Linked DNA regions of Homo sapiens. The protein of the gene in region 1 interacts with the protein of each later gene in a biochemical or structural test. Each region holds a gene or a part of one and is shown on either strand. Other genes may lie near its edges.

What was found.
Region 2: the proteins of MPDZ (region 1) and CLDN10 interact in a test that uses a peptide from one of them, tested with the Homo sapiens proteins (one large-scale study listed by IntAct).

What each region holds. Positions count from the first base shown.
Region 1 is NC_000009.12:13,220,635-13,224,289, reverse strand, and holds part of MPDZ (multiple PDZ domain protein), read left to right. Parts: intron 1-579; coding exon 580-719; intron 720-1,843; coding exon 1,844-2,057; intron 2,058-2,789; coding exon 2,790-2,918; intron 2,919-3,655. UniProt on the Homo sapiens protein: Member of the NMDAR signaling complex that may play a role in control of AMPAR potentiation and synaptic plasticity in excitatory synapses. Promotes clustering of HT2RC at the cell surface.
Region 2 is NC_000013.11:95,559,076-95,562,730, reverse strand, and holds part of CLDN10 (claudin-10), read right to left. Parts: intron 2,600-3,655; coding exon 2,438-2,599; intron 2,350-2,437; coding exon 2,268-2,349; intron 1-2,267. UniProt on the Homo sapiens protein: Forms paracellular channels: polymerizes in tight junction strands with cation- and anion-selective channels through the strands, conveying epithelial permeability in a process known as paracellular tight junction permeability.

The DNA.
Region 1 (3,655 bases):
AGTGACATTTATAACATCTGAAAACATTGGAACAAAAAGTCAGTTTTGTGGGAGTTTAGATGGTTCAGACGTTTTCTATTACAGTTTTATCATCATTTAAATTTGAGTATTATATGTTGTATTATAGAAATATTCTTCAGGATAAAGTGCTAACAATTACCTTGGAAAAATGTTATTCAATTTCTTTTTTTTTTAACAAAGAAATGATTCTGATAAGATGACTGTTACTGCAGTAATTGGCTTTTAAGTTTTTTTTTGAGACATGCCTTGCTCTGTCACCCACACTGGAGTGCAGTGTTGTGATCATAGCTCACTACAGTCCCAAATTCCTGGGCTCAAGGGATTCTCCTGCCTCAGTCTCCTGAGTATCTGGGACTATAGATGTGTGCCACCACACTTACTAAGTTTTATTTTATTTTTTATAGAGATGGGGTCACATTATGTAGCCCAGTCTGGTCCCTAACTCCTGGCTTCAAGTGATCCTCCCACCTTGGCCTCCCAAAGTGCTGGGATTACAGGCGTGAACCACCATGCATGGCCTGGCTTTTAGTTTTATTTCTTGCTTTGTTTCCTAAACAGGGTCGCCATGTAGAAGTTTTTGAGCTCCTCAAACCTCCATCTGGAGGCCTTGGGTTTAGTGTTGTGGGACTAAGAAGTGAAAACAGAGGAGAGCTGGGAATATTTGTTCAAGAGATACAAGAGGGCAGTGTGGCCCATAGGTGAGATGGTCGCGGCGTCTTCTTTGTTTTTGATCCCACATTCTGAAGGTTTTGGTTACTATGCAGGAATTTAGAAAAATAATAATGAATGGCAACAAAAAATTGAACATAATCTGTTATTAACCAGTTTTTAGAAGTCATTAACATTGTTGTGATAAAATAGCAGGTTCTTTGAAATGAGAGTAGCTTTTAGATATAGTCATAACTTAAGTTTTGGTAAGGAAAGAAAAATTTGAGGATAACATTATTTTCATTGTTAATTAAATGGGCTCTTTTTGATTAGATTTTTAAAATTACCATGCTAGAAATGACCCATAATAATTCGAGCTGCATTTTTTTTATGTACCCAGAGCAATAATTTAATATAGTTGCCCCTCAGTATCCATGGGGAATTGGTTCCAGGACTCCTGCAGGTACTAAAATCTGCAGGTGCTCAAGTCCCTTATATAAAGTGGTATAGTATTTGTATATAGCCTGTGCACATTCTCCCATATATTTTAAATCATCTTTAACTTATAATGCCTAACACAGTGCAAATCCTATGTAAACATTAGTAGTCATATTGTATTTTTAAAATTTGTGTGATTTTTTTATTGTTGTGGCATTATTTTTTTTGAGTATATTTGATCCCCAGTTGGGGATCTAATCTATGGATGTGATCCCCAGTTGGGGATCTAATCTATGGATGTGATCCCCAGTTGGGGATCTAATCTATGGATGTGATCCCCAGTTGGGGATCTAATCTATGGATGTGATCCCCAGTTGGGGATCTAATCTATGGATGTGGAACCCATGGATACACAAGGCCAACTGTATAGATATATCCACTTTCATTTTTAGAAGATGAGAATATCCAAGATGTAATGTAGGCTGAGTAGGTAGCTGAAATAAAGAGTACTTTTATATGGGAGGGGTTCAGTAGGAGTAGCAGTGAAATAACCTTACGAGAGTTGATGACCTGCAGCCAAGGCGTGTATTTTTTTTAAAGTAGAACTGCAGGAAAAAGCTTAGAGTGTGGGAATTAAAAATAGGATTAAAAATGACTTGAACATACATGCCAAAGAAGCTGTCATTTCCTTGAGAACTCTCAGATTGTCTTTTATCCCCTTTTGCATCCTTGATAGAGATGGAAGATTGAAAGAAACTGATCAAATTCTTGCTATCAATGGACAGGCTCTTGATCAGACAATTACACATCAGCAGGCTATCAGCATCCTGCAGAAAGCCAAAGATACTGTCCAGCTAGTTATTGCCAGAGGCTCATTGCCTCAGCTTGTCAGCCCCATAGTTTCCCGTTCTCCATCTGCAGCCAGCACAATTTCAGCTCACTCTAATCCGGTGAGTACCTAAAATTTTCAAAAGGAACAGAACGTATTTTTCAAGTTGTTTTTGGTTATCTCCAAGTTTCTAATTTGTGTAGGGTCTTTGCACTTCTTGAGTTTTTGTCTGACTATTCTTTTATTTTTCCCCAGCCTGGAATATTTGTTCTTTAAGCATGATAAAGCTTCTAAGTTCTAAAACAACAATTACTTTTCTTTGTGTAGTTTTGTCCTTTGACAGCATTCCTTAAAAATGAAAAATGTAGTCCTTTAACAAAATTGACTTTATCTGTAGACAGATACAAGCTTGATTTTGCTTTAAAAATTATACAATTATATTGTTAGAGTTAGCTGTCAGTAACTTTTAAGAAGTCATCTAATTTGGAATCCTGCCTCAAGGCAGGATTATGCAGAAGACATTCTTAACATGTGACCTTTTTTTTTCTTTGAACTTTTTCTTTTTTTTTAAAGAAGTTCTACAAAAGATCTTGCAAATCAATGCCTGTCTTTAACTGTTGAAGTGAAATCATTATGATGATATATTGATAATTTCAAGAATGATTCTGTCAATGGCACTTACATTCTGTTGAAAGGGAAGTATACCAAATGAAAGGGACATTGTTAGGACTCATTATTATGTCTGAATTTAATTATTTAATATTAACAAAATAATCGCAAAAATTTCTACTGTAATGTAAAATGGTAGTGCTTTGTAAATTTCTACAAATTCATATATGAGCTTTGTTTGTAGGTTCACTGGCAACACATGGAAACGATTGAATTGGTGAATGATGGATCTGGTTTGGGATTTGGCATCATAGGAGGAAAAGCAACTGGTGTGATAGTAAAAACCATTCTGCCTGGAGGAGTAGCTGATCAGGTAGGCTACATCAATAGATCTTTTATGCTATTTTATCAAATAATATGGGTACATCTTTTACATTTTTTTGTTGGAAAGAAGAAACTTTGGCCTTAAATGATGCCAAAGAAATTGAGTTAGAATCTTTCGTTTTATTGAGTGTCCCTAAAATGTTGTCTTAGACCTAGGGGAGGAATACCTTTGAAAAGGGACAGTAATCTTAAGTTATAGTTTTAGACAATGAGTTTAACACTTTTGAACCTCAGACTAAAGCCAAGGTTATGGATTTGATAATTGTGGAGGTAGCTACTATTTGTTTTATAGTCATAATTCGTATTTATATACCTAGTCAGCTGTTTTATAGTCACAGGGTATTGTGGGAAAATATACTTTTGTATTCAGGCAGAAAAACAACATTCACCTTGTTCCTTTAGTGATGGGTCATTGGTATCATCTTTGTGTATGAAACACAGCCTGTTTTTTATCACTTGAGTAGTTTATTGAGGCATTACCATTTATGATATGTGACATTGTTGCAATATATGTGAGAAAAGATTTAACACATTTGTTATGATTTATATCTTAATTTGATAAGGCTTACTGGTTTAAGTAAGTTTTGCCTTGATTATAACTTTTTAAAAAATAAAGTGGTTGTTTATACATGTGTGTTTGAACTTAAAGTAGGAAGTCCAGCTCATCAAATATTCCCTGTATTCATAAATGAAATTCCTGTTTAATGGCAACCTTGTCAGTAGGGG
Region 2 (3,655 bases), on another chromosome or scaffold:
AATGTGTTTAATAAAATAAACCATGAGAAGTACAGGTTTGCTGCATATTTATGATATCAAACCCTAAAATAAAAATGTATCATTTAAATACAATATTTCTTTTAAATATCATTAAAATATTTCTAAGCTTCAGAAATACAGCCTTGGTTTTTATTTCAATGTTTCCTGCCATGTACATCTGTGCAAATCTCATTTGAAAGATAAGTAGGAGAAAATTAATAAATTAGGACATGTTTTTGTATTATAGGCAGGGGATAAAAAAGTTATATTGAGGTCTAAAACCCATTTAATAAAATTTGTTTTTCTTTCCCATTTAATAACATTTCTGAATAAAAACTATTTTTAAATGTATAGAAAAGGCTGGGCATGGTGGCTTATGCCTGTAATCCCAGTGCTTTGGGAGGCTGAGGGAGGAGGATCATTGAAGATCAGGAGCTGGAGACAACTCTGGGCAACATAGCAAGACCTGTCTCCGTTAAAAAATGTAAAAATTATCCGGGGCCGGGCGCAGTGGCTCACACCTGTAATCCCAGCACTTCGGGAGGCTGAGGCGGGTGGATCACCTGAGGTCAGGAGTTCGAGACCAGCCTGGCCAAAATGGTGAAGCCCTGTCCCTACTAAAAATACAAAAAAATTAGCTGGGCATGGTGGTGCGTGCCTGTAATCCCAGCTACTAAGGAGGCTGAGGCAAGAGAATCACTTGACCCTGGGAGATGGAGGTTGCAGTGAGTCGAGATCGCACCACTGCACTCCAGCTTGGGCAACAAGAGCGAAAACTCCATCTCAAAAAAAAAAAAAAAATTATCTGGTTGTGGTGGCACATATATGTCCCAGCTACTCGGGGGGCTGAGGTGGGAGGATCACTTGAGTGCAGAAGCGCAAGGCTGCAGTCAACTAAGATCACACCACCACACTCCAGCCTGAGTGACAGAAAGAGGCCCTAACTCTTAAAAAAAAAAAAAAAAAGGACGAAAGAAACCTCTTGATGAACAGTACATGTAGCATATTGTCACAAAAATTACAAAATAGTGGAATATTAGAAATCATGCTTTTTAAGAGCCAGTGTTCTGAAGTTCAACTGCCTGGTTTGAATCCCAGTTCAATCAGCCTACTAGTTTGGTCCAAGTTCCCTTGAACACATCACTTGGCCTCTTTCCTCAATTTAAAAAAAGAGTACCAAGAGGACCTACTTTATAAGGTTGTTTGTAAGAATAAAATAAAATAACACAATAAAATAATATTTGCAGTGCTCTGCTTGGCTCCTGGTGGGGACTCAACATGCGCTAGCTATTATTTTCATTTTATTTCATGATATAAGCATTTACTGTTTATGCGTAAGGTACACTTAAGCCAGAACTAGAAAATCAATTTCCTGAAGATTCCTAAAACCACCAGAAAAAAAGTAAAGCCCAGCTGACCAGCTATTTCAGTAATATACTTCTTAAAAATTCTATAAAATTTGACCTGAAGTCTAAAATAAAATTACCAGCCTCATTGATAGCAATACACACACACGTACGTGAGGCTTCCTAAAGAGGGATGTAGATACATTCTTAGGTAAGACAAAATATTTAATATATTAATTCTGATTTGGTATCCCTGGGGTTTTCCCAATCCAAAGAAATAAGCCTAGGGAAACTATAAAAAGCAACAGCCCATAGTTTAAAAACAACACCAACAAGCAAACTGATCTGTTAATTCCAAAGCATTCATCTGCAAGACTGACCAGCCACATTTGGGTAAAGGTGCCGTGCTCCTACAGCATTTTTCAAAAACCTTGCATCGTATACAGTTTCTTTATAAAGGTTTATTAGGAGGAGCTTGTTAAGACAGTAGTTAATACAGCAAATTTAAAAGACCCAGAAACTAGCATCTGGCAAATATCATTTTGAGTGGGCAACAATCAAGGCAAGGTTTTAATTTTCTATTCGCACACCGCATCATTCTTTCCTCTCCGTCTGACACCTTTCACGTTTCCTCTACTTGACCTCAGTTTCATGATGTACAGCAAACGATGAAGTTTATAGTTCTAAATTTGATGCCTTGAACTGTTTCGAGACAAGACACTGCAACACTAGCAAACTAATTAAATGCATATTTTGCGTATGTGGCATATGACACATTTAATCTTGAATGATGTCATCAGTTACCATTTATCAGTATGTCTTACTTTCAAAAGTCATATAGGAAATTCATGTCTCTTGGTTGAGAATATTAATTTATATACACTTCCTGTGAGCTGGAAACAGACTGAGAAGAGTACTTACTTTTGCTCAACAAAGAGAGGATCAAAGAATTCCGTTGTGATTTTGTTTGCATATAGGGAACATCCAGTCATTGAGCACAGCCCTAACAAATATTAGAGGGAAAGCACTATGGTTAGTGTGATTTCATTAACATCATCAAGTACCTTGTTTGGAAGAAAGTTACTATTTACCTGACAGTATGAATACAATCCCAGCCAAACAAGCAATTTTAGCTTTGGCTTTATCGGAGCCTCCGACTTTGGTACACTTCATTCCAAAGAGCGCAAATATGGAACCAAAGAAGCCCAGGCTGACAGCAGCGATCATAAGTCCTCTACATGCCTGTATATAACCTGCAATTAGAGTAGGTCATTTACGTTACATAAAGCATGTGGCTGTCCAGGGAGAAATCCTCATTTTACGTTGTCATTCTGGATGTTTGTTTTCCAAAAAGATAACTGTGATGGTGAAAACATGTGGCAAGACAAGCAAGAAAGGAAAGCAAGTTAATCTACAGGGAGTGCCTATTCTAGGTCACACACTGTGAAGTGCGGTTTATGGGGAATCCTCAGGATAGATCTGAGTGTTATTTCCATATTCACCAGTGAGGAAACTGAGGCACACAAAGGTTATGTGACTTACCAGAGGTGAGTTAGAAAGTGGCAGACATGGATTCCATCCCAAATCAGACTACGAATTCCATATAGTGAAATTCCACAGTGAAAGGTGCCTTTCACTGTGAAAAAACATCATCTGCCACCATCACAACTCTGTAGCTCCTCCGCTCATTGGACTTTAAAAGGGTGTTTTAATGGTTTTGACATTATCAAATGATAAGATTTATAACTGGGTGGCAGAAAGAGATCCAAAGGGTCAAACCTTCCAATATTAGTGGACGCTTATTAATAGCAGACTAACTGGAATATCATCATGAACCATGGGGGGTCTAAGGGAATACTTTAGTGAAGTACTATTGTTTTCAGGGTGTATATAATAAAACTGGGTTTTAAAAAGCACTATTTTGTAGAAGAGTAATTTATAGTGATTAAGTCAACTGTTCTTTTATAAATGAATGCCTTTAAAGTACCCTAACGAGTATGTTCTGTCAGTTCGTTTGTTCATCCTTCCTGTGCTATTCATGTTCTTAGTCATGTATTTTTATTTGCACAGCCAGGGTACACGGTAAACTTCAGTGTGGCTTTTGTCCAGGTTTTTACATTAACAGGGTTTAAACTAATAAGCTTTTACCACATAAGCCATTTTCATTTCAGCCTGAAACAATGCCATATTTCGATCTAAAATAGTGATAGTAGCACATACCGGGTGTAAGTAAGTATCTGCTAAGCAAATAAACATATATACCTACATCAGGTTTACGTTTGGAATTAAACTTTTTAACTGGAAAAAAC